7 linked regions of the Homo sapiens genome follow. The protein of the gene in region 4 purifies or fractionates together with the protein of the main gene of each other region. This does not show direct contact. Each region holds a gene or a part of one and is shown on either strand. Other genes may lie near its edges.

What was found.
Region 1: the proteins of SV2C (region 4) and HIGD1A purify together in Homo sapiens (affinity purification with mass spectrometry; one large-scale study listed by BioGRID and IntAct). This does not show direct contact.
Region 2: the proteins of SV2C (region 4) and STX17 purify together in Homo sapiens (affinity purification with mass spectrometry; one large-scale study listed by BioGRID and IntAct). This does not show direct contact.
Region 3: the proteins of SV2C (region 4) and FAM91A1 purify together in Homo sapiens (affinity purification with mass spectrometry; one large-scale study listed by BioGRID and IntAct). This does not show direct contact.
Region 5: the proteins of SV2C (region 4) and AGK purify together in Homo sapiens (affinity purification with mass spectrometry; one large-scale study listed by BioGRID and IntAct). This does not show direct contact.
Region 6: the proteins of SV2C (region 4) and UBE4A purify together in Homo sapiens (affinity purification with mass spectrometry; 2 studies listed by BioGRID and IntAct, with this or other methods). This does not show direct contact.
Region 7: the proteins of SV2C (region 4) and CA2 purify together in Homo sapiens (affinity purification with mass spectrometry; one large-scale study listed by BioGRID and IntAct). This does not show direct contact.

Annotation. Positions count from the first base shown.
Region 1 is NC_000003.12:42,790,248-42,794,490, forward strand, and holds part of HIGD1A (HIG1 domain family member 1A, mitochondrial), read right to left. Parts: intron 4,053-4,243; exon of another isoform or gene 4,029-4,052; coding exon of another isoform or gene 4,007-4,028; coding exon 3,910-4,006; intron 1-3,909. UniProt on the Homo sapiens protein: Proposed subunit of cytochrome c oxidase (COX, complex IV), which is the terminal component of the mitochondrial respiratory chain that catalyzes the reduction of oxygen to water. May play a role in the assembly of respiratory supercomplexes.
Region 2 is NC_000009.12:99,968,772-99,973,014, reverse strand, and holds part of STX17 (syntaxin-17), read right to left. Parts: 3' UTR 1-4,243. UniProt on the Homo sapiens protein: SNAREs, soluble N-ethylmaleimide-sensitive factor-attachment protein receptors, are essential proteins for fusion of cellular membranes.
Region 3 is NC_000008.11:123,809,241-123,813,483, reverse strand, and holds part of FAM91A1 (protein FAM91A1), read right to left. Parts: intron 3,203-4,243; coding exon 3,133-3,202; coding exon of another isoform or gene 3,094-3,132; exon of another isoform or gene 2,823-3,093; intron 966-2,822; coding exon 780-965; 3' UTR 1-779. UniProt on the Homo sapiens protein: As component of the WDR11 complex acts together with TBC1D23 to facilitate the golgin-mediated capture of vesicles generated using AP-1.
Region 4 is NC_000005.10:76,081,674-76,086,650, reverse strand, and holds the start of SV2C (synaptic vesicle glycoprotein 2C), read right to left. Parts: upstream 3,269-4,977; 5' UTR 3,139-3,268; intron 2,436-3,138; exon of another isoform or gene 2,338-2,435; intron 1-2,337. UniProt on the Homo sapiens protein: Plays a role in the control of regulated secretion in neural and endocrine cells, enhancing selectively low-frequency neurotransmission.
Region 5 is NC_000007.14:141,637,667-141,641,909, reverse strand, and holds part of AGK (acylglycerol kinase, mitochondrial isoform 1 precursor), read right to left. Parts: intron 663-4,243; coding exon 512-662; intron 100-511; coding exon 2-99; intron 1-1. UniProt on the Homo sapiens protein: Lipid kinase that can phosphorylate both monoacylglycerol and diacylglycerol to form lysophosphatidic acid (LPA) and phosphatidic acid (PA), respectively. Does not phosphorylate sphingosine. Phosphorylates ceramide.
Region 6 is NC_000011.10:118,376,200-118,380,442, forward strand, and holds part of UBE4A (ubiquitin conjugation factor E4 A), read left to right. Parts: intron 1-374; coding exon 375-495; intron 496-3,246; coding exon 3,247-3,551; intron 3,552-4,243.
Region 7 is NC_000008.11:85,462,469-85,467,291, reverse strand, and holds the start of CA2 (carbonic anhydrase 2), read right to left. Parts: upstream 3,286-4,823; 5' UTR 3,211-3,285; coding exon 3,177-3,210; intron 3,065-3,176; exon of another isoform or gene 2,959-3,064; intron 2,711-2,958; exon of another isoform or gene 2,377-2,710; intron 2,021-2,376; coding exon 1,823-2,020; intron 1-1,822. UniProt on the Homo sapiens protein: Catalyzes the reversible hydration of carbon dioxide. Can also hydrate cyanamide to urea. Stimulates the chloride-bicarbonate exchange activity of SLC26A6. Essential for bone resorption and osteoclast differentiation.

The sequences.
Region 1 (4,243 bases), on a different chromosome or scaffold from region 4:
AGAGGCCAGGTGCAGTGGCTCACGCCTGTAATCCCAGTACTTTGGGAGGCTGAGGCAGGTGGATCATTTGAGGTCAGGAATTCGAGACCAACCTGGCCAACATGGCAAAACCCTGTCTCTACTAAAACTACAAAAATTAGCCAGGTATGGTGGCAGGCGCCTGTAATACCAGCTACTCGGGAGGCTGAGGCACAAGAATTGCTTGAACCCGGGAGGCGGAGGTTGCAGTAAGCTGAGATTGTGCCACTGCACTCCAGCCTGAGCGACAGAGCAAGACTCCGTCTCGAAAGAAAGAAAGAAAAACAACTAGAACCAATAAGAAAAAAGATTACTTTGATGAATACATTAAAAAGCATATCTAGAGAAATTAAATTTCTAGACCTAGAGAAAACAATAAAATCATATTTAAGGACACAAAAGGTTTGAATGAAAATCAGTAGATGCACCACATTCTAAAATTTCCATTCTCTCCAAATTTATAAATTCAATGTAATCCAAATGTAAAAATGAGACATTTTTCCCGTTTTGGACTGGGCAAGCCAGTTTCTTTTTCTTTTCTCTCTTTTTTTCAGACACGGCGTCTTCCTATGTTTCCCAGACTAGAGTTCAGTGGGTATTCGCAGGCATGATCATTATACACTACAGCCCTGAACTCCTGGGCTCAAGTGACGCTCCTGCCTTGGCCTGCTGAGTAGCTGCAATTAACAAGCTAATTTCAAAGTAAACAGGCAAGCTCTTTTTAAGAAGGTAGAATAGTGAAAGTGTACTGGCTTATGAGGTATCTAAACATACCACTAAGTTTCTGGCAGACAGATCAAAGCAACAAAATACATACAGTAGTTGAGTAACAAATCTCTCATATGTTTAGTATATGACATAGTTCACATTTCAAATAAGTGGAAAAAGAATGCAAAACAGATACCCAAATCACTGTGATAGAAAATTAAAGTATCCATACGGAAAATAAGTTAGATTTTGCCTCATGTCATACCTACAAATAAATTCCAGATAGATTAGTATCTCAATGATAAATGCACAACATAAGGAAATACAGGAACCTAAGTAATCCCAGGATCATGAAGGCCTTGCAACATATTAAGAAAACATTAATACCTAAAATACATAATTATAATTTAATTAGAAAAAGACATCCTAGTTAAAACAGAAACAAAAGCAAAAACAAAAAAGCTAATTCACAGAAGAGAAGCCTGAATGACCAATACATATGAAAAGATGCTCAAAGAATGATAATATCTAGTGCTACTGAGAGTATGGGAAAACCAGCCCATCACAGCCTATTGGTGTAAATCATTGTTTTGGTACAATTAAGTATATAAGGATATTTAATTTTTACACACACAGTCTTCCAACAGTTTGTAAAATCAACATAATGGGAACAACTCCTATGTCGTCAATACAGCAATGGTTAAATCAATGTAGGGTTTATGTACTCCCAAGAAGGGATATGTATAAATGACAACCCATTAAAGAGCAGAAAATTTTATATTTGTATCTTATCCTTTTGAAATGTCTTTCTGCGTATTTCATAATGACTTAAATGACTTAAAAGTCATAAATGACTTAAAAATAGGTAAACACACAACACACTGGCAGGAAGTACGTGCTCAAATTATTTTTTACTGAGGGAATATACAACCAAAAAATTTTATAGATCACTGTTACAAAACATTGTATATCTACAAAATTAATGATTCAATTATTAAAAATATAAATGTTCCTATATGCATTGTTATAAAAAGATAATGAACAAGGCTAAAGAAAAATATTTCATCTAAAAATAATTATAAATAATAGTTTATGGTAGTACACAGAGAAGAAAACACTGACAGACTGTGCAGACTGCTGTTGTCTTTCAGAGTCGGGATCATAGGACATGGTACCTTTCTGTTTTATGTACTTTTGCAACTAACTTATTAATTATATGGTCAGAAGAAAAATTCCTTCAAGAGACTTCAAAGTCCTTTAACTTCTTGGAGAGCCATCTAAAAGGATGCTCAGTAGTTTAATTGTTAATAATGAAAAATTAGAAATCACATAAATTTCTACCAAGAGGATTATAATAATGTTATATACAACAGTAATTTATATCATATAAATTAAGTCATTCTTAAAAGTGGAGTTTTGGCCGGGCGCGGTGGCTCACGCCTATAATTCCAGCACTTTGGGAGGCCGAGGCGGGCGGATCACAAGATCAGGAGATCGAGATCATCCTGGCTAACACGGTGAAACCCTGTCTCTACTAAAAGATAGAAAAAATTAGCCAGGCGTGGTGGCGAGCACCTGTAGTCCCAGCTACTCGGGAGGCTGAGGCAGGAGAATGGCGTGAACTCGGGAGGCGGAGCTTGCAGTGAGCCAAGATCCTGCCACTGCACTCCAGCCTGGGCGACAGAGCAAGACTCCGTTTCAAAAAAAAAAAAAGTAGAGTTTTAGGCCAGGCACGGTGGCTCACACCTGTAATCCCAGCACTTTGGGAGGCCGAGGCAGGTGGATCACCTGAGATCAGGAGTTCGAGACCAGCCTGGCCAACATGATGAAACCCCCATCTCTACTAAAAATACAAAGAAATTAGCTGGCGTGGCGGCGGGCACCTATAATTCTAGCTACTCAGGAGGCTGAGGCAGAAGAATCGCTTGAACCCAAGAGGTGGAGGTTGCAGTGAGCCGATATCGCGCCACTGCACTCCAGCCTGGGCAACAAGAGTGAAACTCCTTCTCGGAAAAAAAAAAAAAAGTCGAGTTTCGAATAACATAGTTAAAAACATGAGATAAAAATTATAATACATATATGCATCTTAGTATGATCCTGAATTTGTGAAGATAAAAAAAGAAAAAACAACTGGAGAAATATGTACATCAAAATGGTAACAACAGTTATATCTAAATGGTGGCATTAAAGGTAATTTTAAAATTCTCTGTAAGATTAAAAATTTTTAAACTTTTTCTTAAGATTAATTTATATACTATAAATTTCACCTTTCATCTGTTTTAACTGCATATTAAATGAATTTTAATATGCCTGCGAGTCCGACCTCTGGGGGATAGGAGACTGAATAGCTAATTTCAGTCACAGCTGACACCTCAATAAAACCTGGTTACCAAGGCTTGGTGGGCTTCCCTAGATGGCAAGACTTAGCATGTATTGCCACATATCACATCAGTACTGAAGAATTAAATGCACCCCCTCTCCCCCTGTGGGACTCCCTGGGAAGGGGACACCTAGAATTTTGTGTCTGGTTTATCCTACACTTCATTCTATATGTCTTTGTTGACTTTAACCTATATCCCATTGCTGTAATAAACTATGACTGTAACAAGCATTTTTGAGTCTTATGAGTCTTGGCCCAATCATCTAACCTGAGGATGGTCTTGGGGTCCCCCAATACAACATTATGCACTGAAATAAGACTCAATAAAATAAGAAGTCTCAGCTGGAGTGGCAGCTCACGCCTATAATCCTAGCACTAGGCTGAGGGCAGGCGGATTGCTTGAGCCCAGGAGTTCAAGACTAGCCTAGGCAGTATCGCAAAACCCCGTGTCTATACAAAACTACAAAAATTCGCTGGGCGTGGTGGTGCACACCTGTGGTCCCAGCTACTTAGGAGGCTGAGGTGGGAGGATCAAGAACCTGAGAGGTCGAGGGATGGGGGCAGTGAGCTATGATCAAGCCACTGCACTTCAGTCTAGGTGAAAGAGACCCTGTCTCCAAAAAGAAAAAAAAAGTCTGAATACATACAGAAGAATCTTTATGATGAGATTTATATCATGCCAATCTCAGCATATTTCAACATAAGAAAAAAATGGAAAATACATTCTTTCAGGATATTGCTAAATGAACAAATTATCACGGCTCTACCATATTCAAGACTACTAAAATGTCAGTCAAACTTACCAACGGGTACGAATGGTGCCTCTTTAGCTTTTCGAATGAGTTTTGATCCCTGATCTTCCTCATATGAAGGAAGGGAAACACCTGTGTCTGTTGACATAGTGATTGCTTGAAGAATCTCCCTGAGAAAGAATTTCTATGAGGTTCTGTAATTAAAAGCATCTGAACATTATTAAATATCTGGATGTATTTAAAATATTCCTAACTTCCATGAGAATCTTAGTATATGTTATCCATAATCCTAAAGTTAAAAAATATTTTTAGAAATTAACTGTATTTTTAATGTACAGTCACTCTCAAGGGAGAGTTGTATACACTTATTCCCCCTATTATTTTG
Region 2 (4,243 bases), on a different chromosome or scaffold from region 4:
TACCCCTGAACTTTTAATATTAATTTAGGCTAGAAGAGAAACTCCCCTGCCTTTTATTAGGCCTCTGATTACTTAAGAACATCATCTAACATTCGTTAAGTACCTGTGAACCACAGCCACGTTCTACTTAATAACAAAAAAAACCACCTCATTTCCGAGGAGAACCTCCCCCCAGGCTTTTCCTCATCCTTCCTTGTAAGATTTCATATGGCAGCAACGAAGGACAAAGGGGACCCTGAGAAACACCTTTCATATTTAAGGTTAACACAAAGCATGGTTTGGTTTCTGCACTCTGATGGAAGACAAACGTTGTATATTATCTAGCTATATTACAGGTTTCCTCAACTTCTTGTGATTGATGTTACCAGTATTTGATTCTTACTCCTGTACAAAAATCTTAGAGCACTTAAGGGAGGGCAGGAAGGCAGGCAGCCCACAGAAGGAAGTTTCTGGACTCATGCAATTCTCCCTGTACAGCACTCAGTTTCAGTATAACCTCAAAATCCTCCAGGAACTCTGGTCAGTTCTACACAGCACCATCATACCCCCTTTTCTGGGATGATCTGCAAAATGTCTTTGGAGGCAATTCTGAAAGAACAGTTTCAAAATTGGTCTAAGTAATATTAATACTAGCATCACTACAGTAAGTACATGATTTCCCAAGGGTATCATTTTAAAGGATAATCATTTGATCTATGAATTATGATAAATTTGTTTTAAAAAGCATTAAAGTTTATTTTTAAATTACACAAAAAGCACTGTTTAAACAATGGTTATAACTAGTGAACATTAAGAAATCTTGCAGGCAGGTGGATGGGATTGAAATACTCTTTCTTGATTTTATAGTTTAAGGGCCAAATTGAGCACTGTTTATGTCTGCATCAGCTACCATTAAAAACTTTGAGGCTGCTGGACACTCAGTAAGGAATCAGAAGTTTTTTAAAAAGATGCAAATGAATGGAATGTGTCATTTCAAAGCCTGTTTGGTAAAGGAGAATGGATGACCCACCTTTTTTTAAATATTTTTTTGAGAGAGGGTCTTGTTCTGTCACCAAGGCTGCTCCTGAGTTCAAGTGATCCTCCCACTTCAGCTTCCCATGTAGCTGGGACCACAGGTGTGTGCTATGCCACACCCAGCTAATTCTTAATTTTTTTCATACAGACAAGAGTCTCACTATGTTGCCCAGGCTGGTCTCAAACTCCTGGGCTCAAGTGATCCTCTGGCCTCTGCCTCCCTAAGTGCTGGGATTGCAGGCATGAGCCCCTGCCCCCAACCCCCATCTCAATTTTGTATAGAGGCTGTATAGTCTGAGAGACATAAAAGTTTTTGTAGCTCAACAGACCTAGTTAACATTCCTGGCTTCACCCCTTTGTAGTTGAGTAAACCTCTGCAAATTATTTTCTCTGAAGCCCAGTTTCCTTACTTGTAAAATGCCTGGTGAAGTGCCTGGCAAACAGAAGGTATTCAAGAAATACCAGTTCCTCTGTGAGGGTGTTTTTTTCAAGCTAAGGGTTGCAACCCATTGGTAGATATCAATTTAGTGGGTTGCAACTGGCATATTTTAAAAACTGAAACAATAAAAAGCATCAGAATGGTAAGTATTGTTCATTAAACATATTCTAAGGTTTGATATAAATGCGTTTTTTACTGTGGGTTACAGCCAAAAGGTTTGAAAGTCTCTGCTCTACAGAGAAATTCTCAGATTATGTTAAAAAAAAAAAAAAAGTCCTTAGGATTGCTGCCTTTATCCAAATGAGGGCCCACAAATTTTAAGACATTAATCAAAGTGTTCCCACTTTCTAACTTGTTGCAGTAAAAATAAGACATGGAGAAAATATTTAATCTGATATGATAAAACATTAAATTCAATTTTAAGATTGGTTTCTGTGTCACACTGACTATGCTTATAAACACTTTATCATTTATAGTTGATCAAACTCTTCTAGCAATTTCTATGAAAAAGTTGGCTATTAGGTTCCATTATAGGGAAATGAGATACTTTTTAAAAGGACTGTAACTTGCCTATGTGTGAAGACTGCTAGAGTAATATTCCAATCCTGATGAGCAGTAAAAGTCAAGGGCTTATATGAGTACATACAGTGGTATTCCACACTGGCTCAGTAAAAATGAGAGATACCAATACCAAGTGTGAGCTTCAAATACAGGCCTCCTTCAGGTCTTTATGTAAACCAGATTTACCTTATAATGAATCCCTAGTGCTGCCGCTAAGTTGGTGGGCTGAAAGGATAGCCAATTTGGGATGGAAGAGTGGGGTAATATGCAGTGATGAAGAAGGGTAGAATACTGGGAGTTTCAGAATTAAATGACACAGCAGAATCTTGATGTAACTGTTTCTTAGATTTATAATTTCAGCTGACTATGCTGGACGGGTGATGTCAGAATTACCCCTGGAACTGAGGTTTAGGAATCTTGCTTTAGTATGTGCCTGGGTGAGTTCTGATCCTCATTCAGGTTTGATCACCCTGTGTTAAAGTGACAGAGCAAGGTCCAGAAACTAGAGAAGAGGTGTAATTCAAAAGTAATTATCCCAGCCTCACAGGTGTCCAATATCACAGGTGTCCAATACTGGATCAGAATCTGACACTTATTCAAAGTATTTCCTTCTTGGTATTATTAATATGTTAATGATATAAAGCAGCAGAGAGCAATACTTGATACTTTCTAGTTATTTAATGATACTAAGAAATGGTGCTGTTTCACTGGATTTCATTGATGAGATTTAAGACGTATGAAAGAGAAAGTCTCTTTAGACAGGGACATGAAAGGTAGCCATCAATAAAAGTTACTAAAAGTAAACTCAGAAAGAAAGAAGTGATAAACCATCCAATCCCCTAATGAACCTTAGCTCCTGGCAGAGAGACAGCTCACACCTTCTGGGGTGCAGGTGCCCATCCCTGTGCTCAGAAAAAAGCGTTAAGTAAGGCAAAAAGTGATTCCTCCTATTTTAAATGAGTTGGGGTACAGAGGGGAGCTGCCTGTAGTCTTGAATTCTTTTTTTCCAGTATTAAAGCCTTTCTGCGGTTTGAGATAGACATGCAGTTGGGCTGGGCCATGCTTGCTGTGAATGTCAGGTGTTGAGATTAGCACCACACCATTCCCCGGGTCTGAGTCTTGCATGCGTCTTTGTCCATCATTGTCTAGAATGTGAGAAAGGTAAGCATGGGAACGCCATTTTGGGGAAGAAACACCAGCTATAGAAAGCAAAGGGATGCATAGGAGATAAAAAGTCTGGGGAAAAGGATGTGAGGTAGCAAGCGAGTTCTCAGCTCCCCCCAGAGACCAGCTGAAAAGAAGACTGGGTCAGATACCCCCTATCTGGCAGATATATCACCCCTCAAAACTGGAACATGCCCCAGGAAATGTTCTTGGTGGTTTTTTTCTCCTTGCTCATTTTAGCCCAAACTCTAACAATGTTGAAAATATCTCGAAATTTCTTTTTTTCTTTTCTTTTTACCTAGAGGTTATAGGAAGGGATGAACAGAGATGACAGACAAGACAAAAAAGGTTATGAGAGAATTCCTCATTATACATGGGTAGAATTCACCCCAGAAACCAAAGAACTTTTCATAATTACAAGGGAGGGACAGCACAGGGCACAAGATCTTTGAGGTGTTAGAAGACAGGCTGACAGACCAAGCTTGGTGACTGGCTTAATAAGTCTCCTACCACTTGAAATTCTGTGTTATTTATTTAAAGAGAGGCAGAGGAAGAGTTCAGAAGCCAGAAGATTTTTGGAAGAGAAGTTGAGCCTCTTGCATTTTCTTACATCATTAATTTCCTTCACCAGAAGATATAGTTGGACCAAATTGCAATAGGGTTCGCCAATGGACTCCATTATGTAGTCGACCTGTGCTCCTCACTAGGCCCTGATTTCGCTATCTGATAACAAAGGCTTCTGAACTCTTATTCTTTTCCTCACTAACAAACCTCAATAATCTACACTTAGCATTAAGGTCTCCAATTCAGGGTTATGGAAGAAACTAGTCTTCCATAACCCAACGTTTCTACACATCTCAAGTCCTTATCAGAGTTATAGGTTCAGTTTTCACATTTCCAGGGAGAAAATCTGCTCCTTGGCAGTCTTCAAACTTTACCTGACATACATTATATACCCTCAGCCCAGGGCCTCAATCTCTTAACATCTCCATGAACACCCCAGCAAACAACAAAATATATCCATTTATCACACTTCAATCCCACTTGAACATCAGTAGCCACTAT
Region 3 (4,243 bases), on a different chromosome or scaffold from region 4:
CAGCAGCTATAGCTACAAGAGTGGAAAATAAATTCTATTTTTTCCATAAAGACTCTATGAAAATATAAAGCCCAAAGTCAGTGACAACAGAAGTCCACATATAAATGGTGTTTAAAAATAGAAAGTCTTCTAAAGCTTCTCATGAGATGTCAATGAATAGTCATAATCTTAAGACCTTATAAATCAAGGTTAAGTTATACACAACTATGCTGATTTACATACCTTCTACAATGTCCAACTGACATACATAATTTACAGACACCCATAGGAATTCATAATGCCCTATCATATCATCTCTCAATACTGGATGTTTATTGTTTTATAGTTTTACTACTTTAAGTACCAAGAAGCCTTTTCAGAGGAAGAGTTCCATCTCTTCCCTTGATCCCCCAAAGTATAGGTAACAAAATATAAAATTAAACAAGATTTATGTTTGATAAACTAACATATAAAATTACCATTGCAATTTTCATAGTGACTGCTTATAAACATAACAGTCATCATAAAGCCTATAAAGTATATACTTAGTTTTATAAAAGAAATGCAGATTGTCTCAAGGTAAAAAATACAGTGCTGGCTGCTAAAAAGCACTTTGTCGCAATAAGATGTGCAATAATGAGCAAAACTTCAGAAAACATGAATATGTTCCCCAACTTTTAATATTAGTTAAGCAAGAATTGCACTGCAGCAGCAGGATGCTTTTTAGTGGCTGACACTATAAAGCTAACGTTAAGAAAGAAAAAAGGCAGAAAGTGTGAGCAACAAATGGTGTAACCAAATTATTGCAAATGGAGATTAGCAATAAGAAGTGAGGAAGGTGACCGTCCACTCCATTCTGATAAGACACCATCTTTAAATATTAAGTTTTTTGCAGGAAGTGGAACACCCATGTCAGCACACGATGACTGTGAAAGCAAACTTGAAAAACTGGGCTCTGTGTGAATATCCAATATTGAAGCACCTTCCTAAAAGATCAAGAAACAAGAGAAATGATATTCAACACTTTACCAAAACCACTTAATATAACTAATGAGAAAGAGAGACCTTGATTACCTGAGAAGTGTTTATGGATTGCAAAGCAGTACAGGAGATGCAAAGATCTACACTGTGAGCCCAAAGCAATCAATGACAGGTATTAATATGTGCAAAAATGACTAACAACGTTAAACTGTAGTAAGTCCTTTTAAATAGAAATAAGAGGCTACGAGACTGTGGGAAAAGCAAAAGTTCATTTTTACAAGACCTAACCTAACCCCAAAGTATTACCTAACAGAAGAAAAATCTCTAAAAAAAAAAAAAAACTTACAAAGGCCAGGTGCAGTGGCTTGTGCGCCTGTAATCCCAGCACTCTGGGAGGCTGAGGCGGGTGAATCACTTGAGATCAGGAGTTCAAAACGAGCCTGGCCAACATGGTGAAACCTCTTCCTACTAAAAATACAAAAAAATTAGCTGGGTGTGGTGGCACATGCCTGTGATACCAGTTACTCAAGAGGCTGAGGCAGGAGAATGGCTTGAACCCAGGAGGCAAAGGTTGCAGTGAGCCGAGATCGTGCCACTGCACTCCAGCCTGGGCAACACAGCCAGACTCCATCTCGGGGAAAAAACAAAACAAACAAACAAAAAAAACCTTACAAAACACTAAGCACCAGAATAATCCACCTACTCCACGCTTCTCAGATTCATATATTCCGCACAGACCTCCCCCCAGGACTCCATGCTCAAACATCCACCTATCTGACACTTCATTTCAGATGCTTCCCCATGCACTCTATACTCAGTATGCCCATCATTGAACTCTCAAATTTTCCCTCCCCTCTTCCTCCCCAGTCTTCTCTATTTCACACATCCAGCTAATCAAAAAACATAAGAATCATTCATGATCCCTCCCCTCCCTTCCCTCCACAGCCCTAATCTTTTCCTCACATTTAATTCATCATCAAGTTTTATCAACCTATCTCCAAAATATATCCCAAATTAGTTTAATTTATTAATTCACTATGGCCAAGGCCTTCACTGCCACAACAGACAGGCCAGTATTGACAGAATTTTGAAATTTTTCCATTTATTGCATCCTTATAAAATTTCCATTTTTGCCTATTTTTATAAAATAGTCCTTCAGAAATAACCTCTCTCCCCTGTTTAAAAGTCTTTAATCATTTCTCTTTGCACTCAACGTAAAATACTAGTTCTCTAACATATGCCAGAAGGCCCTGCACACCGTGCTCCGGCCCTCTTCTTCAACCTTACCTCTTGCTTCTACCCCTCTTTCATGAAGTTTCTGCCACACTGGGCTTCATTTGTTTCTTTGTTCACTGGACATTTCCCAGACACAGGAAGTACAGACCTAAGCTCTGCCGGAATATTCTTTTCCAACTTTTTGGCTTCAGCTTATATTATCCTGCACCTATTGAAATTAGGTCTACCTGCAGATTTCATCATAGTTGGCTTCTTCAAAGTACTTTTTAAAATCTTTTAGAACTTATATATCTTAATATTTATCTGATTATTGTCTCCCACAACATTCTCTAAGTTCCATTAGTATCTTACACATCACTGTTTCCACAGCACTCAGCAAAGAATCTGGCATAGGTCAGGGTCAAGCATTTACCAACTGAATGAATGAAGTAAAACTCCAAAATATTGATTTCATAACGTTGAATTAGATATTCTGAACAGAAATATTCTATTTTAAAAGTTTACCTATAAATCAAGTCTAGAATATTCTTTCTTTCCTTGGGGATGGGGGAAAAACAAGAAGTCCAGAGCACTGGCCTTCGCTGCCACAACAGACAGCCCATCCCAGCAGTGGAGAATCGCTTTAGTTATTGGGAAGTGCGCTATAACCAAAAACTAACACCTAGCATGGCACACAGCCCATAAAAGACACTTAACACATTTCTGTTGAATAAAGCACTGGCACAGAACAAAGAGATCAAGCTTTGGTCTCCGAAGACCTGGCGAGTGAAATGTGCAAGTCCATTAACTTCTTGAATCTCAATGTCTTCATTTGTACAATAAAATTAATGTTTATTTCATATCTTGCTGCTGTGGTGACTCAAAAACAAACACAGAAGTGTTGTGCATACTTAAAGCTCAGTACAAGTACCATTTGGACTTTTTGGTTTTTGTTACCTGGAATGAGTGAACAAAGTTAAGGACTTGCAGAGAGAGTTTTCTACTGGAATGTAAGAGGTTTTGAAGGCTGAAAAAAAAAAAGGCGAGAAACAGTTTAAAACAAACATAAAGGCAAGAATGAGTTTCTCATAAGAGTTTAATTTTAGCAATTTAAATGCATCTATATATCCTGGCCAATCACAAAACATCTTAAAAAACAATTTCAGTGTTTCTCATCAATGAAATTTTTGCTTGTTTTAATAATAGGGAGTAGTCATGCATTAAAAGTCCATTTTGAAATAAAATACATCGTGTAACTAAAATCAAAGTTATTGTTTTAAAAAAATTCAACTACTATAAACATAAATGTTAAATGAAAGAAAACTTTTCAAATGAAGATTTAGGCACTCTGAGGAATGACAACTATGACACAACCTTTAAACAACCAAAGTAATTGCAAAAGACAACCTGATAACAGATTAAACACACACCAACCTACCTAAATATTTTTCAAATATGTAAGTCAGTAAAAATTATAGTGGTAATCTTTAAAGTTCTATAGTATTTCTATTTTTTACTCATGTATATTACTTTGTTTTTAGAGAATAGATGTTGAAATTGTCAACTGAGTACTCTTCATTTTCTGATAAAAGCTACATTACACCATTTAAATGAATTATTGTCCAACTTCATTTTCTAAAATAAGAAGATCTTGACTTGTGGATTTCACCTCTCCAAGCCACCTATCATGACAATTAGATTCAATTATACTCTTTCCTGCTAACCCAGTTTGTCTCAGAACCTTTACAACATTGCCTCTTAGCAGCTACTCACAATGGATCAGAGCTGGTATATAAGATAAAACCTACATGTCATCTTTAAGGAGTAATACATATCCATTTTAGAAAATGTAGAAAGTGAAGAAAATTTTGCAAAGTCATCATAATTCCACCACAAAAACCAATCACTATTAACAGAATATAACATGAGTGTGTGTATGTTAGGAGTGAGAGAAATGCAGAGAAATTTTCTGTAGACATACATTTTTTAAAATCTAGGTTCATACTCCATATCAGCATGCCCATTTCACCACACCCTCACCTCACCTAGATTACTAAATAAATATAAT
Region 4 (4,977 bases):
AAACTATATATGCCAGGGGCTGCCTTTCCTGGGTTTACAAACAGACTTCATTGAAATGATGAGTTTGTGTTTAAATGGAGAATACTATGTATGCTGTGAACCACAGTCAAACAGGAACCTCACCAACATGGAACCAAGAAATACGCTGGTGTATTGAAGGTTTTCCCTTGATATAGCTGCACAGAAAAAGAGGCATTTTGCTTTCACTACTCACAGAAATCTACCGTCATCTGGAGTAATATGAATAACAACAGTGGGCTGGTTAAGGAGCCATTTTGACAAATCACATGCTTTTATTCATACAATATGTCATCAAGTTTGCTTAAGAATAAGAGATAACACTCCTAATTATAGGAAATGGGTTTTCTGGTACTTGTCGTCACGTGATATATTGCACATTATGATGCCTTTGCCGTAATCTCCTGGAGACTGGGAACTGGATCCTATTATTTGAAGCATTTCCACACTTAAGGAATATGATAGGGTTAATAATGAATAGGAGTTTTACTACAAGCTGTTAGGCCAGTCTGCTGCTCAGATCAGAGAAGCTACTTTCACTGTCATTGGGTCATGAAAAATAAAGCTGATTTCTCCACTACATGAACAAAACACTCAGATGTGATCCAGAGCTTCTTTTTTTCCTTCTCCAGACAGTCAGTAGCTAATGGCATTGGATTACATATTAGACTGTTAGGAAAAGTCTGCTGTCTGCATTTGCTCACATTGAGGGCCAAATTTCATTAAAAAAACAATGCTGGGAAAAGTCTCTAGAATTTTTTAAAAGAAAATTCTGTGTGTGTGTGTGTGTGTGTGTGTGTGTGTGTAGGGGCTTTGTTTGCTAATATTTTCCATTCATGGAAAATTTGTATTTCCAAAGCCAAAGCTCTCTGAGATTATCTCTTTTGTCTTCAAAACAACCCTGTAAGGTACATAAGAGCTAGTATAAGCTATTTTTCACAATTCTCAGAGGTGGAAGATGAACCCAAGAGGGTGAGTAACCTGCCCAAGGTGACATAACACAATATTTGGGGAAATGGTGACTAGCATCTGTGTCTCTGGGTTCCTTGATAATTGCTTTTCTTCCTCCCTCCCTTCCTTTCTTTCTTTTTTCCCAACCCCGTCCCCTTTCATTCATTTTGCCTACATACTGCAGATTTGGGCTCCTTCAGTAAAGCCAGTAGAAAAACTTTGTCACTGGGTTTCCAGAAAGTGGTCTTTAAAAAAAAGAATAAAATGGATCGTGGATTTGATTTATTATTTTCCACCAGAGAATGCGTTATCAGTAGTGTTTTTTAACGCGTATTTTTATGCCATGAAAGAGGAATGCGGCATATTGTTTTGTAAGACATTCTTAAACCTCACTTAGAGGCCAGGCCTCCTGCCAAAAATCCTGCAGAATGGTGGCGCAACGGGTTGGCACTACAGAACCTCACGAACCTCAACACCTAGGCGTTCACATGAAAACTTCCCACGAGCACGAGGCCTTTCGGAACTTGCCATGGAAAATGAGTGAACGCCTGAGAGATTAATGCCACATTCTTCAGAATTAAGGATAAGAATTAAACGGAAGCTACCGCGCTAGCAGTCAGCTAAGTATGAAGGGATTAGGTTCAGCGGGAGAGGAGACCATCACGGCATCCCGGTCTCATCTCCTTAAGGCTCTCATGAGCCTTAAAAGACGCCTCATCTCCTCGGTCCCCCGGGGAGCGCCCGGTAGCTGCGGCTCCTTCCCGGCACTGCGGCGCACTGCGGAGCCGCCTGCCCGCCAGCCCAGGCCGTGCGGGGCTTTCCTCGCCGCCCCGCGCCGCCGCAGTCCTCCCGCCCCCCTCTGCCCCGCCGGGTCGCCGCTCTCCGCGCCAGGCGCGCCGCGGGGCATCCATCAACCCAGAGCTTTTGACGCACACACGCGCGCTCCCAGACGGAGACTCCGTCGCCTGCCCCCGCCCGCCACCCCCGCCCGCCCCTCGCGGGTCTGCATTTGCATCACTCGCACACGTAGAAGGTGACGCGAGCGCCCCCAGCTCAGGCCGTCCAGGCGGCACCTCTAGCCCCCGTGGCTCAGCCCCTCCCCCCGCCCCCGCGCGCCGCCTAAGGTCCCCGCACGCCCACAGATCTGCTCCCGATTGTTCATCTGCCGTGGGGTGCTGGCTGCCCCAAGCCAAGTTCATCCCCGTATTCCGCAGTCCCCGTGGGCCCAGCCCGGGGCGCTCCCCGCGACGCTCTGGAGAAAAGTCTTCCCAGTTCTAGAACCCAGGCGGAAGGGGAAAAGCCCACTAAGAGAAAGGGTCAGAGGGTCGGCTGATGGCTTTTGCTGCCCTCATCGCCATCTAAGATTACCTCGGTAGCTTATTTACTGCGATTGGTCCCTCTCCCCTCTGAGCTTCACAGCCTCGGGTCTGCTTCGCCTGGCCTGGCGCACAGCAGGCGCCCAAAAGGTTTTTGCTGAATGAAGGCGTTGTAACGTAGGAAGTGCAGGCGCTGACAAAGAGCCTCAGCCCCGCGGGCTCCCCTGCTCTCCAGCCCTCTCTTGCTCTCTCTTAGACGCCAGACAGGCGCTTCGGGAATGTATGTGGGAGAGTTTGAAAATTCATGGTGTTTCTTTCAGGCTCTCTCAGCACTTACTGCGGCTACCTCTGCTCTCCCGCCACCTGCACGTCTGCAGAGGGATCCCCGCCGAAAAGTTGAGCCTAAGGCAGCTATGAAGGTATAGGTCCAGGTACCCAGCCCGGGGCTCTAGGCTGCTAGATTTGAATCTGCCTATCCCTGCCGGTCAAACCACACAAGCAAAAAAGAGCGTGGCGGTCGCTGCAGATGCGGCCCCTGCATCCCCGCTGCTGCCCACCCACCTCCTCTGGGAATCCCAGATAAAGTGCGACCCAGTCCCCAGACCTACCCTAGCGAACCCTGGGGTCACTGCATCTATTTTACCCCTACTTTCCTGGTCCCTCTCCAACAAAGGCGCCTACAAAGCAGCGGGCACCTGCAGCCGCTTCCCCGGGGGCAGGCGGGGCAAAGTTGCGCTTCCGAAAGGCTGCAAAAACTTCCCCAGGCTGCAGCGCCCGGCCACCAGTCGGGAAGAGAAATCCAGCAGCGGGGGAAAGTCTCCCCGCGGATGCCCGCTTCACCTCCCCCACTCACCGCTCCAGCCGTCGGACACCCTTGCCCTGAGTGGTGTCAGCACTGCAGCCGCCTCAGTGCGGGCGCCGCTCCGGCTCGCTTCCCCGGGCTGCCTCCGTCTGCCACTCTCGCCTGCAGCGCGCGGAGTGGTGACTCCTCTGAGCGTGTCAGCGGCGAGAGGAGGGGCGGGAAAGTGGCTCCCGGCTTGCACGCTGCGGTCCTCCTCCTCTCCTCCGCCTGCCTCCTCCCCCTGGTGCTGCAGTGCCGGGCGGCGGCGTGGCGAGAGTACCAGCGGTGCGCAGGGAGTCACGGCGCGCGGGGGAGGCGGGACCCGCGCGCCACTCGCGGTGCTCCGGCAAGTCGCGGTGCTGAGGCGCTGCTGCGGTGTGGGACTGGGGCAGGGGGCGGGGAAGGAGAGCCACCTCCAAGTGGTAGGTACTTCTGGAGAAGTCAGGGCTCTGAGTTTGTAGCAGGTGAAGGAGAGGGGCGGCAGTCCTTAATTAGTCACCAACTGTGACTGTGCGTTGCGCACTTGGCGGCGCCCCGGGTCAGGTCCAGCGTGAGACGCGAGGGAGTTCTGACTGCTGGACTCTGTTAGCACCGGACAAAAAGAGGGTTTGTATTCTATTTCCGGGCCTGGGACTGACTTGTTCACTTCGACTTGGCTTCCAGGGAGCAACCAGGCAGAGCTAGGTTGCCTACTTCCCCCAGCCCCCACCCCGACGCTGGAAGACAAGTCCAGAGGAAACTTGGGCACAGCAAGAGCAAACAGAAGAAAACTTCGCTGGGTTAAGTCTACTGTCTCCCCAATGCTACATAGGGCCAGACAGCTGGGCTCACAGGCAGATATTGAAAGTGGCCCCTTAGAGGGGAAACAACCAAATATGAGGGGGGGGGGGTGGAGAGAGAGATAGAGAGAGAGAGAGGAGGAGGAGGAAGAAAGAAAGAAAGAAAGAAAAAGAGAAAGAAAGAAAGGAGGAGGAGGGAGAAAGAGAGAGGAGAGAAGAGAGAGAGAGAGGGAGAGAGAGAGAGAATTTTGCTTGTGTTGTTAGAAACAAACATTTCTCCCCTTGGCGTGCAGGAGAGAGAATTTTGCTTGTGTTGTCAGAAACAAACATTTCTCCCCTTGGCGTGCAGGAGACCCCAACTCGAGCTTCACTGTTCCAAAGCGGTGGGCCAGGCGGCTGGAGAGAAACTCGCTCCCGTGAGGCCACACCCAGGCCTGGCGCACCCACCCCGCGGCAGCAGTGGAGGGCGTCGCCCTCCCGGGCCTTCCGACGCAGACCCTGCCATCCGGATGCTGCGGGAAGTAGGGCATCCTCACGTCCCTGACTCCTCCGGCTCCGCGCGCTCACGGAACCCAAGTGGAGTGGGAAGCGGTCACACAGGCGTGTGCCGTCCCCGAAATCGTTGCTCCTGTGGTGGTGACCCAAAGCGAGACAAAGCGCCGCGCCAATACGGGCTGCAGTGATTGGAACTCAAACACACACATCTCTCCGCGAATGTGTTCCATCCGTGTAAATATGCCTGGGTGATTGAATGGATGGCTGAATGAACGCTGTGTGGATAGAAATATAAATGTTACATGTATAATACAGGCGCCGGGGAAGGAGAGCTGTCAGGCACCCCCAGGCTGGAGCCTCCTGCCCAGAGGAGCCGGTGGAGACAGGCGGTTCGCCCAGGGCGGTGTTGTTAGCTTGGGCTTTCCAGTTCGATTTGTGCCACTATGCAGGATACTGTGAAGAGAAGAAAATGGAGACAACTCTTGGCCTCTCATTTTCCCTCCTCTCTGGTTCAGACACTCTGGCACTAAAAGTTATGATTCTCATGTGCTGTTGAACCTACACTTCCTTGCTGGTC
Region 5 (4,243 bases), on a different chromosome or scaffold from region 4:
CTGTCGGGTCAAGCTGATTATTCCGTGTTGTGATGGACAGTTCAATGGTGGACAGCTGCACATCTTTCCAGACCTCCGGGCTCACCTCTTGGGAAAGGGCTGTGGGAATCCATTAGATACAGGTCAGTTTCTTCCATTAACATTTCACCACCCACCACGGACGGCTAGCTGCTAGCTGCTCAGCTCAGCTTCTCAACCTTTCTGCTGACTCTGCCTTCATTTTATTTATTTCATGCTTCTTATACATAGAGGTAAAAATGGCATCTCTGTGCCTAAAACATCACTACCAAAAGCAGTCACGTTAACAGAAAGACTGTGCACAGAGACTGCTATGCCCATTGATGGCACATTGCTTGGGCCTGCTCTGGTGGCACACAGAAGGATGAATTCAGTGATCCCTGAGAGGCTTCTCCTGCTCTAGTTAAGTCTCTAAAACTGATTTTGGAGGTCTACTTTAGGGCACTTCTAAACTGACCAGGGCCCTCCAATCTTTAGTCGCCACATTGCTCACCATCCTGTGGTTGTGCCCAGTAGGACGCAAGCCTTCGTAATATTCTCCTGTACAAAGAAGGCCTTTGTACAGGGGTCTCCTCTGGTTCATTGGGAGGTCTCTCTGTAGGTCCCGTGTATGAGATAGAGGCTTGATGAGTCTGAGGCCACTCCTTTTAATGTGGAGAGAGAAAAATTTTGTTATGCATGTACAATTCCACTCTGGGAGTTTCTCTCTGCAAAAGTTATTTATTTGTCTACCTATACCTGCTAGAAAGTGAACTAATAATCTCCTCTCACTGGATGGAATGCTAGTTTGGAGCATGGAATCCTCAAGCTTTCTTTTCCTCTTAAAGCTACATCTTAAAAACCATGAATTCAGCAAGTACTGCCTCCATTGCTCCCCCTAAAATTGGCTAACCACCACCATTTACATTTGTCCAAAAAGAGGGTGAATGAACATAGGGTCATCCGTAATAAATTTATCTTTGGCTTACAGATGGTGATGCAAAATGAAACTGAGGAAATCCAGTTGCATCAAGTACCTACCTCACTTCTGGAATCTTATTCCACACACAGGCCAGAATGGTTTAGCCCAGGCTCACAATCCAGCCCAAGGCTTCTCACTTCTGCTTCAAAGCCCATCACCCTCACACTCTAATTTTTTTTGTCTTCTATGTCCTGGCATCCCAAGTCCAGTGTCACCCTGGATCACATCCTGACCGCATGAATGAATAAAACCATACCCCAGCCTCTCAGCCCTTGACATCACCTCTGATTCACCACATCCACCCATTTCCATGGCCACATCCTGGCCCCTAATGTCACCCAGAACTATTCCACTTTGGAAATCTAAAACCCTGAGATCCTGCTCTCTAATCACATCCCATATTCTTCTGGTTGATTCTTTTGTGCCCATTGTGTCTCTTAGGGTGAAATGCTTCCCTGTTCTCAAGTTTCCAGGTGGTGAATTACAAAGCAGTAGCAACACTGGCTTCTCTCACTCCACTGCTTACTCACTCCTCCCCAAGTCTAGAAGGACCAATGCATGGATCCAGCCCTTTCCTTTCTCTCTGACAGCAGCTGTCCTTGTCTCAAACGGTCACTGCTTCTAATTTTCATGTGGTGAAAATTAGCTTCTTGTGGTGGTCTCTGCCCTGAAGGAGCTGTTTCAATGGACACCTTTGTTCACAGTATTAGGAGATCAGATAGAGACCACGTATCTGTGCTCTGTCCTCCACTCCTGCTGACATTTATAAAGATGACGTTTTGATCTTCATCTGCCTAGTTCCTGCATTTGTTTTCATACCTTGGTTCAAACTAAAAAGAGGAAGAGAGGGGTTTTATTGTGGGCCCCTGAAGACCTAACTGCACCAAGTTTTCAATCACATTGAGGATTCTACTCCCTGACCACTCATTTTCCCCTCAGTGCCAAACTGATAGTCAATTACTTTCAAGTGCTTTCTTTTTCCACTTACTCTTGGCTTTCCTGTGTCTTTATTCTTCTACAATATGTCCTAAAAAGCCCCAGTTCTGGATCAGCCTTGTCATTAAGTTCCTGTACTCTTACATCATGGCTCAGTATTACTAGAGAAGAAAATGATACTCCTGCTGAGTATTAATACAGGGAAAAGCAGTCACCCAAAGGAGCATTCATGTCTACAAATTGTTAGCCTCAGGTCTTCAGTGCTACTTGATAATCCTAAGCCTCCTCCTACATTCATCTTTCTTCAGGATACCCCATACCACTACTCACCACCTTTCTGACAGGATCACTTTGCTTCCTACACTTCAGTGAGAATATCAGGGACATCAGTGAGAATACCTTAACTTTCTCTAATCTCATTTTCATCTGGACCTACCCTTTACTCCTCTTCTGTATCAATGAAAAAAGGTGCCCCTTGTCCTGTCCAGGGACAATCCAGTACTCTGGATCCCACGCCCTTCTACCCGCTCTTGGATTTTGCCAATTCAGTCATGCTTTCTGTCTCCCTTCTCACCTCCTCACATTCTTTTCTTTTTCTTCAGTCTAGAAACACATGGATATTCTCCACTTTTAAAAATTCCATATTGACCCCATGTTTCTCTCAGCTTTTGCCTTCCCTATCTCCTTCTCTTCAAAGTCAGGTTTCTTGAAGGAGTAGCGTGTCCTTGCTGTCTCCACTTCTTTACATCACTTTTATTTCTTGACTTTCTTCAGTCTGGCTTCAGCCACCACACTTTGGAGGCTGCCCAGCTTTTGGAGGCTGCCAAATTCGATGGATACTCTCTTGTCTGTATATTTAAAGTCTTTGCTTTTGCTTCTCGAAACTCTTACTTTTTTCTTGAAATTCTCTCTTCTATTGGCTTCTATGTTAGTATTCTCTCCTGCATTTTCTCTTAGCACTTCTCAGTCATTTTTGGTGGTTCTTTAAATGTTTATGTCCCTTAGGGATATTCCTGGCCATCTGTACTCAATGGTAATTTCACCCAACCCATGGTTTCAACACCGCTCACACACTTATGACATTTGAATCTGTTTCTTTAGTCCAGACCTCTCTGCTGAATTCCGACCTAAATCACAATTGTATCTTTGCTTGTCTGTACCACAGGTATGTTAAACTCTACATAGATTAAACTGAAAATTTCATCTCTCTTCACAAACTTGATTTACTCTAGTATTACCAACATCAGTGGAAAACTCCAGTTACCAAACTCTAGTCCCTCATACCAGAAATCTGATAATCCTACATTCTTCTGACTTTTGAGGTTCTAACTTAAGAGTTCTTTAATCCATCTTCTATTGTCAATACTGTTACCTCCTTAGTCTATACGTCACTTCCCACCTGACTACTTTAACAACCTTCTATCTAATGTCCTTGCCTTGAGCTACCTACATCCTATCTGTTTTTCTGTTTAGAAAAAAACAATTTTTCTAAAATGCAAATCTGCTCATTTCATGCCTCTGCTCAAGACTCAATAACTCCCCATTGCTTTAAGGATAAAAGTCAAATTGCACATCAAAACCCGCCATAACCTGCCCTTACCTAACCCACTGGCTTCACTTCCTGCCATTTTACTGCATTAATCATAATTAAGGGCCATGTCACACCACTGTGACTTCACACAGCCTTTAAATGTTTCAAAATTTAGTGTGTCTCCTCTGCTGGGAAGATTTTCTGACCCTCATTAGATTTAGATGCCCCTCCTCTCTGCTCCCTTCTTAATCTTTCTATCTTTCTCTCACAGCACTTGCCAAACTGCTGATTTACTTACACTTCCCTCCCAGCATCTGAATACTTCTTGAGGGCAGGAAACCTGTCTCATTTGACTTTGTATCCCAAGCATATGTCAACTATTGTTTGCTGAATAAATAGTGGCAACAGTTTATATTCCATTTAAATATGTAGCTACTCTATTTCTTCCTAAATGCACTCACAACTCCACCAATGAAACTCGAGGAATAACCGATTTTACTAATCCAGTTTGCCCTTGGTATATAAAGACCTTGCCCTGCAAAGTTCATTTTTAAAATCACATACATTTACTTCTAGTAGTTCAGTGATTTTAGGGTTTTACATTTAATTTTTTAATCCAGCCAGAATTTTTTTAAAAGGTAAAGGAAGCTATGTTTTCCAAATGTTTTGCAAGGAACATGTATTACTTTTATAATTAGAAAAACATTCAATAACTCTGAATATTAACATTGGAACCAACCTTCTCACTACATTCAAACCCCATCTGCCAATTTTCAGATTGGCCAAACTATCAATAT
Region 6 (4,243 bases), on a different chromosome or scaffold from region 4:
CATTCAAAGTGAAATCACTCTTAATTTTGGTATATTTCATTCCAGTTTTATAATTCTAATTGTAAACATGATAACTGCTCAAAAGCAAATAATCAAATTCAGAAAAGCACAAAATAAATACAAATGATCTATTGCCTATCACTTGAAACAATCTATAGTAGTATTCCTTTTAATTTTTGGTGATTTCATGAAAAAGATTTAACTGTATTTCTGTAGACGGTGAGAAACCAAAAGATATATTCAGACAAAGAACTAATATGACAAGATATGTTTTTAAGAAGATATCACTGCTAACAGTATGGAAATTGAATGAGTGTAAGAGGAGACTGGAGACCAAGACATTTACCCTCTTTTTTTTTTTTAACTTCTTTGAGGTTTGGACAAAGAAACCTGTTTGATCCCAGCTGTGCAGGAGCCGAAGTTTCCACAGAACTACAACCTTGTAACAGAGAACCTTGCTCTGACAGAGTACACCTTGTACTTGGGATTTCACAGGTAACTCCTCTGATGTCATTAGGAAAAAACAGTTTAGTTGTGTTGATAACTAGAAGGTAGAAATTGAGTCTTTGGCCAGGCACAGTAGCTCACATCTTTAATCTCAGGATTTTGGGAGGCCAAGGCAGAAGGATTGCTTGAGGCCAGAAGTTTAAGACCACCAACCTGGGCAAGAAAGTGAGACCCCCATCTCTACCAAAAAAAAAAAATTAGCCAGGCATGGTGGCATATGCTTGTGGTCTTAGCTGCTTCAGAGGCTGAGGCAGGAGGATTGCTCTAGCCGAAGAGTTGGAGGCCACAGTGAGCTATGATTGTGCAACTGTACTCCATCCTGGGTGACAGAGTGATAACCTGTTTCTTAAAAAAAAAAGAGAGGAAGAGTCTTACAGATATAATCTGAGCTTATTCTAAAGGTTCACATTAGAATCTAATAGAAAAGGGGCATTGTATGAATTTACTTGTGTTTCATGAATCAGCTTTGTCCAGATTCCTTAAATTTGTTTTTAACTTTTATCGTTGTCGTTGTTGTTGAAATGGATTTTCGCTCTTGTCACCTTGGCTGGAGTACAGTGGCACATTCTCTGCTCACTGCAACCTCCGCCTCCTGGGTTCAAGCAATTCTTCTGCCTCATCCTCCCAAGTAGCTGGGATTACAGGCATGCACCACCATGCCCAGCTGATTTTGTATTTTTTTAGTAGAGATGGGGTTTCGCTGTGTTGGCCAGGCTGGTCTCGAACTCCTGACCTCAGGTGATCCACCACCTTGGCCTCCCAAAGTGCTGGGATTACAGGCATGAGCCACTGTGCCTGGCCTGTTTTTTAACTTTTGACCTGTTAAACTTTAAAAATTAAATCACTGTCTTCCTATTGTGATCTGGGAAAGTGGAATTGTTTTCATTTTATATTGCACTTTCTGCTCTTAAATTTTCATTACTGGCCGGGTGTGGTGGCTCATGCCTGTAATCCTTTGCACTTTGGGAGGCCGAGGCAGGCAGATCACTTGAGCCCAGGAGTTTGAGACCAGCCTGGGCAACATGGCAAAACCCCGTCTCTACAAAATATACAAAAATTAGCTGGGCATGGTGGCGTGTGCCTGTAGTGTCAGCTACTCACGAGGCTGAGGTGGGAGGATCTCTTGAGCCTGGGATGTTGAGACTGCAGTGAGCCGAGATTGCGCCACTGCACTCCAGCCTGGGCAACATAGTGAAACCCTGTCTCAAAAAAAAAAAAAAAAATTTCATTACTACTCCTGGTGATAAAAGATGAAGTTCAGCCGGGCGCAGTGGCTCATGCCTATAATCCCAGCACTTTGGGAGGCTGAGGCAGGCAGATCACAAGGTCAGGAGATCAAGACCGTCCTAGCTAACATGGTGAAACCCCGTCTCTACTAAAAATACAAAAAATTAGCCCAGCTTGGTGGTACGCGCCTGTAGTCCCAGCTACTCGGGAGGTTGAAGAAGGAGAATCGCTTGAACCTGGGAGGCGGAGGTTGCAGTGAGCCGAGATGGTGTCACTGCACTCCAGCCTAGGCGACAGGGCGAGAATCTGTCTCAAAAAAAAAAATTAATTAAAAAAAAGAAAAAGACCAAGTTCTACTCTACAGATAGAGACAAAAGTGGCAAATATTAAGGAAATGTTTATAAGGGAGCTAATGAGATCAATAGGACCACAAAAGACATTAGATAAAGAAGATTCTAGAAATGTTAAGATTTTAGAACTAGAATGTATGACTTCCAAAAACAGTTCTGGTTCTGGCTATTCATTATTCTGTAATTTGTTTTCCTCTGATTTAGCTGATTATGACAGGTATAAGTAGAGGAAGAAAACAGCAACTCAGTCATAGAAAGGGACACTAAGAATAGCAATTTTTAATGCCTTCTCAAGATACCTGAATTGATGCAGAGCATTTTTCAAAACTACTCAGTCAACACATTGCCGGAAGAAGGAAATTATGTCTTTAGAGAGAAATCTCCATCATAGACATTTTAAATAAGACAGTAGATAAAAGTTCAGCATGTGCTTAAGCTGCTCAGCTGCCTAGATTCAAACAAAAAATGAATATCATCTAGTTTCCCAATATTAGCTAGCTCAAGACATTATCTACAGGGCCAAAGGAAATGATTTTGGACTATTATCCATAACTTTGAATTATGTGTCTTCCTTTCAGTAGAGAATATTAGGCTGACCTTTTCTGAAGAATAATTTAATTTAATATTGAACAACAGAGAGCTGGAAGCTGCTCTTAGATTGCATCTCAGGTGGCTACTAGTTTATATGTGGTCATTACTAATCTAGAGTCCCTTTTCACCAGCTTAGTTTTCTACTAACCAAAGAAAGACTATCCATATAACCCCATCAAAGTATGATCATTGCATCAAAGTATGATCATTGCCCTTGTGTGATGTAAAACTATCCTGCTGGCCTTCTTGTACTTTGCCTAATAATTATTTTATGTAATAACAACCCATTCTACACCCTACTCAACCAAGCTGCCTTTCTTTGGATAGTGCATTTCAACTGAAGGCTGCTATTTGCAATTAGCTTCAATTATGTTGAATACTTGGCAGCATTTTCCCATTGCTGTGCACCCTGCCTGTGTCCTGTCAAAAACTTTTGTGAGTGCCTTCTGTGTCATTGCAACTGCAACTCCCTACTATCCTTAAAGAGAAGGCTAGATAAATAATTGAGGATTTGTTTTTTTGTGACTTTCTGTTTTCCCTGACCCAGTCTCTTCTGCTTTCTTGGGGGCAGGTTGCATGATCAGATGGTAAAAATCAACCAAAATCTGCATCGGCTGCAGGTTGCCTGGCGGGATGCTCAGCAAAGTTCTAGCCCTGCTGCTGACAATCTTCGTGAGCAGTTTGAACGACTGATGACCATCTATCTTTCTACCAAGACTGCCATGACAGAGCCACAAATGCTACAAAACTGCCTAAACTTGCAGGTGTCCATGGCTGTTCTACTGGTTCAACTGGCCATAGGCAATGAGGGCTCACAGCCAATAGAGCTAACCTTTCCTTTGCCAGATGGCTACAGCTCTTTGGCTTATGTGCCAGGTAAGCAGGCTCTCCCTTGGGAATGTCCTGTTTATAGCCTTCTGAGTTTAAGTGGGTCACTTTGGAAGTTTAATCCTCAAAATACCCTTTCTTCGTTATCATTCAGTTGTTTTTGGAGAAACAACTCAAACTTAGATAATATCTACTGGTCAAAGTATTAGGGGACTAACAGTTTGTTCCCTCAACCTTGTGTCCCCCTGCTATGCATATCAGAAAATCATCTTCAAAGGATTAAGTGTAATCAGAGTTTTCAGAGCTGTTAGTTTCTATCATTAATATTTGTTCAACTTACACATTCATCTAACTTTCCCTGTCCTTTTTGTAGAAAAAAAATTAGCTCCTGCTGGTTAACTCAGAAGGGAAAGAGTGTGTGTGTGTGTGTGCGTGTGTGTGTGTGTGTGTGTGTGTGTGTGTGTGTGTGTGTGTCAGTGAGTCATTGAGGGGTGGGCAGGTGTTGTCAATCTAATCAGGTTATGTGTTCTTAACCATTGTATTGGCCATATCATGCTGAGTAACAGATTACCCCAAAACATAGCAGCTTAAAACTACAGACTGGGTATGATGGTGCACGCCTGTAATCCCAGCACTTTGGGAGGCCGAAACAGGATGATTACTTGAGCCCAGGAGTTCAAGATTGGCCTGGGCAACATAGAGAGACCCTATCTCTACAAAAAATAAAAAATTAGCCAGGC
Region 7 (4,823 bases), on a different chromosome or scaffold from region 4:
CAAATCCAGGTCTCTCTGACCCCAGTCTATGCTGATAGCCACCAGACCATGTGTTCAAATCCACTTTCCAGTAATACATATTACTAGAATAATTTATTTCACTATCCATTTTTTAAGGACTATTAGGAACCTCATCTGCTTTCATTTGTTGGAGATTTGTTTCTTCAGTGCTCCAAAAAAGACTTAAACTATCCAATTTCTATGTAGCATCCAATGAGATACATAATTTGGCAGACATTACATCCATTGAAAACAATGACATCATTGTGGCTCTTTAAAAAAGTACAGCTACAGACTAAAGTAGCTCACTTCTTTTGGTTTGTAAATGACTAGACGTGAAATGTTATAGTATTCTTTCTGTATGTGTAATACCTTGAGACCTTTGGCCTTGTCTTGTTATAAATATACAGTATTCTTTACAAGAAAAAAATTGTTTAATTTAATTATATGAGCACTGTTCCTTTGGAGTGAGAGGAATGCTTGGGAAAGCAATGTAGCAGAATCACCGAACTGTTTTCAATGTACAACCTTTACTTGATTCTAATAAATCATCATACTATGCCAGAAAGTGTGAGTATGATTGTAAGTGTGTGTGTGTGTGTGTGTGTGTGTATGTATGTATGTATGTGTGTACTGGGGAGGGGTGCACACAGACAGGCACAGGTAGGTTGAAAACATTTCTCAGATGATCTCCACATTATCCCCCATCAAATTGTCTTCCAGAATCACCATTTCAGAAAGCCAGGTGTTTGCAAATTTTTTTAAAGTTGAAAGGAGGGAAGAATTCTTTTTTCAAAACCAAGTTGACTATATAGGATAGCTGCTGACAAAGAATAGTCTACCTGACTAAATGGTTATAATTACATATTATATAATATATTAGTACCGTAGGTCACTACTCCAAAACTTTCTCATTTTGTTCCACCACTCCCCTCACTCCCACACCACCACCAAACAAAATGTGTTTGCAGCACCATTTCATTCTATGACCTTCAGAGGAAAGCACTCAGGAAAATAGGGCACTGGCAATTAAATTAACTGCTTAGCAAAGAAGGCAGCTACTATGTGTGAATGGGATTGTTCTCTTGTTTCAAAAGAGAGAGAGATAAAAAAAAAAAAGCAGGATTTTTTTTCTTCTTTCTCTTTCTTTTTTTTTTTTTTTTTACAGTGAGCATCCTGTAAACAGCTCTATTACCAATAAATACGGTAATTGGTTTTGTCAGTAATGGGCCAGGTATGTTCACCAACTCTAAAACATCTTCGTTTGTGAAATGAATTTCTGAGTAGATATCAAAACATGCTGCCATCTTTATCACACTAGCCCAATACTAAGAAATACTCATAAGTAAAACATTTTCCCAGAATTTCAGTATTTTAAATTGGCACGTTTTTGTTACTCTTCTCGCTGCTAACTTGAAGATAAGGCTCACTAAGATATACTTTTTAATGGATATGCATCAGCTCTGCAAGACAAAATATTTTACAATCTTAAAAGTTCAATTGGTGCAAATCTCATCGTGACTGATCTTTATTGCGAGGGGACTTTGCACCTTTTGTGATTTTTCACAGGCATATCGCAGTTATTCAATGGCCTTCATAGAAGCCAAGGGTTTTACAGGGAAGAAACGGCCCCGGGACACTTCAAACTAATTAGCCTACTTCTCAGAATCTGAGACCTAATGAAAATGATCAGGGTGGCATCCTTGAGTCCTGAGACAAACTGTATTATTAAGAGGGTTCCTGCCACTGTTCCTGGCTCCTTCCATTAAGCTCGGAAAACAGCTACTGGCTAAAAGACACAAGTTATTTTCTAAACACTGACCTGCTTTGTCCTGAGAGTCATCAAACTCCACGTTGAAAGCATGACCATTGTTGAGGATCCTCAGGGAAGTTGCTTGATCATAGGAAACAGACAGGGGCTTCAGGGAAGGGTCATACTTGGCTGTATGAGTGTCGATGTCAACAGGGGACTGGCGCTCTCCCTTGGCAATGGGGAAGTCCTTATGCCAGTGCTCAGGTCCTGGGGGAAAGAAGACATGTGAATCCCCCATTGTGGGGAAAGGTACACCCAGACCCCTAGAGAAGAGCAATCATTCCGGAGCCAATCTGCTCAGTTCCAATTTTAGAAGCATCACTTAACAATGGGCTAAATTTTGGGAAAACACGTAATCTGTGCCTCAGTTTCCACATTTGTAATATGGGATAATTAGAAATCTACCTCATAGATGTCGCTGTAAGAATTAGAATCGATATATGTAAAGCTCTTAGATCACTGAGTGCTATATAAATATTAGCTATTTTAAGGTCGTTTTACTGAAATTCAGCAACTGAAATCGGGCAGACACTAATGTCAGGGCTTGTGGTTGCGATTTTGGGATATGCAAGCTCACTTAAGACATTCAAGGAGGTCTGGATCCTTTCCTCACTGCCCAGGCCCGGGCCCACCCCACCTTTAACCGTCAGGGTTCCCCACTACCTGGGAAGCCCCACACCCTCCAAAGATGCGCTAGGTGCGCCAGACGCATGCTCCTCTGCTCCGCTGGCTCCGAAGAACCAGATCTGAGGCCAAGATAAAACCCGATTCCTGATGTCCGACCCCCTAACATTAGAAGTCGAGAGATGAAGGGAAAACTCGGAAATCAGAGCCATGGATTCAAACCAGCACTGGAAAATGCCCCGGGACAGTTCGTGCTGAGCGCCTTAGCCACAGGTGGTGCTGAAGCTGGAGGGGTGGGGTGGGGGTGGAAGGTGGGGGAGGGGGGAGGGGAGTCTCTTAATTTCTCTGCGATCAACAACTAGAATTTTCCGTTACAACCCTTTCCCGCCTCCTCCTAGGTCCGGTTAAAATGATCCCCAGGTCGGGACCCGGGAGGGACTGTCCTCGGGTCCCGCGGCCAGGGCTGCGCCTCCCCTCCCTCGGGCCCTACGCGCCTCCGGCGGACGCGGGGATTCCTCCACAGTGGCCTCGCAGCTGGGGCAAGGGGGACATCCCCGGCGCCGCGGAGCCGCGAGCGGAGCGAGCGCCCGGGGCGCACCTGAGCCTCCAGCACTCCCCGCGGCCGCGGTAAACAGCATGTGCGGGCGCTGCGGGCCCCGGGCCGGCATCCGGGCTCGGGGATCGGGGATCGGGGATCGGGGATCGGGGCGCCCCCGCGCTGGCCGTCGCCGGCACTCACCGTTGTGTTTGCCGTACCCCCAGTGATGGGACATGGTCGCGCTGGCGGTCGGGGCAGGGCAGGAATCGGCACCGATCTGGCGGCGGCGGCTTGGGCGCCTGCACTGTGTGTCCGCGGGTCGCGCCGGCACCAGCTTTTATAGGCTCCCGCCAACTTCGTGCTCGGGGGCGGCCCGGGGGAGGGGGCTCGGGTGGACCTAGGCGACAAGGGGAGGTGGTGACGGGCGGAGGTGAACTCCCCGCGCTCGGGGCGGGGCGGGCCGGGCGGGCGAGTCTCCGGGGGCGGGGAAAACGCCCTCTCGGCTGGCGCCCGGCGGGGCTCCGGGGCTCCGGGGCTCCGGGGCTCCTCTCCCGCCGCCCGGCTCCCCTCGGCCCACGGCAGGGCCCCGGTGTCCTGGGCTGGCAGCGAAGCTCGGAGCTCTGGGCGTGCGGCGGCTGCGGTGGCTCCTGGGCTCCTCCGTCCAACCCGGGCCGCGGAGCCTCTACGCGCACCCCATCCCCCTCCCGGCTGCGGAGTCTGGCGGCGGCGGGGACTGCTCGGGACCCGGACCCCCGGCGCCTTTCGTCCCCTGTCCCCATTGTGACCTGTCTCTTGGCCCCGGAGCCCTCCCGCCCCACCCGCGCCGGGGTCTCCAGCGCGAAGGGCTCAGTCTCTGGTGTCCCCGGCCTGGGGCTGGCAAGCTGGGTTAGGAGCTATGACCTTGGGGCAAATAGGGATACGATCCTAGAGGCGCAGGGGAGCGCGCAGCATGAGTGCTGAGAGGCACGCGCCCTCTGCTGCACGGCCGTGGAATAAAACGAGACAACGGCCCCACAGTCCCCTGCCCGCAGCCCACGCTCGGGCGAGCCTGGAGGATTGCATTTCCTCGTAGGCTGGCAGAGCCTTACATGAAGCGCTCATCTTCTCCTACTTTCCTCCTCTTTAAAAAATTAACGTGGGTGAGGAGACGTCCTAGTTGAGTACATATTGATTTGAAATAACCAAAACTTTTAACAAATCACTTTTCTCAGAAGAATCCAGTAAGAGAAAGATAATTTCTTCCAAAGACATGAGACGTTCCCTGGCTGGCCAAGAAAAATTGGCATCTGGCATACCTAGGAATCATTCAAAATAGTTTAATAGGAAGGACATTTTGAGGCCAGCCAGCATTATGACATTTGTGGGTCCTACGGCATTTCACCTTGGTGGGTCCCTTTTTCATAAACACGCATTTATACCAACACTGACATAAAGATAAATATCTTAATATTATATATTTAAACATTTTCTTTAACCAACACCTAATTTTTTTCTTTTTTGTTCTTATTTTAAAAGGAAACATTTTCCTGGGCATCTAAAAGTATTGTGGACCTGAGACACTGTGCTTACAGGGCCTACTGGGTAAGTGAGGCTGTTTTGAGATATAGAGAGAATTCATTTCCTACAAGGGATTTTGCCACAGAAAAATCCGGGGGTTTGTGGGAAGGAGTTCGGTTCTGTGGTCTCTGCAATCTCTGAGGGCAATAGTATTAGAGTTACAGTTGGGGAAGCAGGACACAGTTTAATGTGATTGTGTCGGCCTTGACATCACATTACTTACCTTTGAAAATATACAGATAAATACAAGGATAAGTTATTAGTGGACATTTTTGCAATATGTATCTCAAA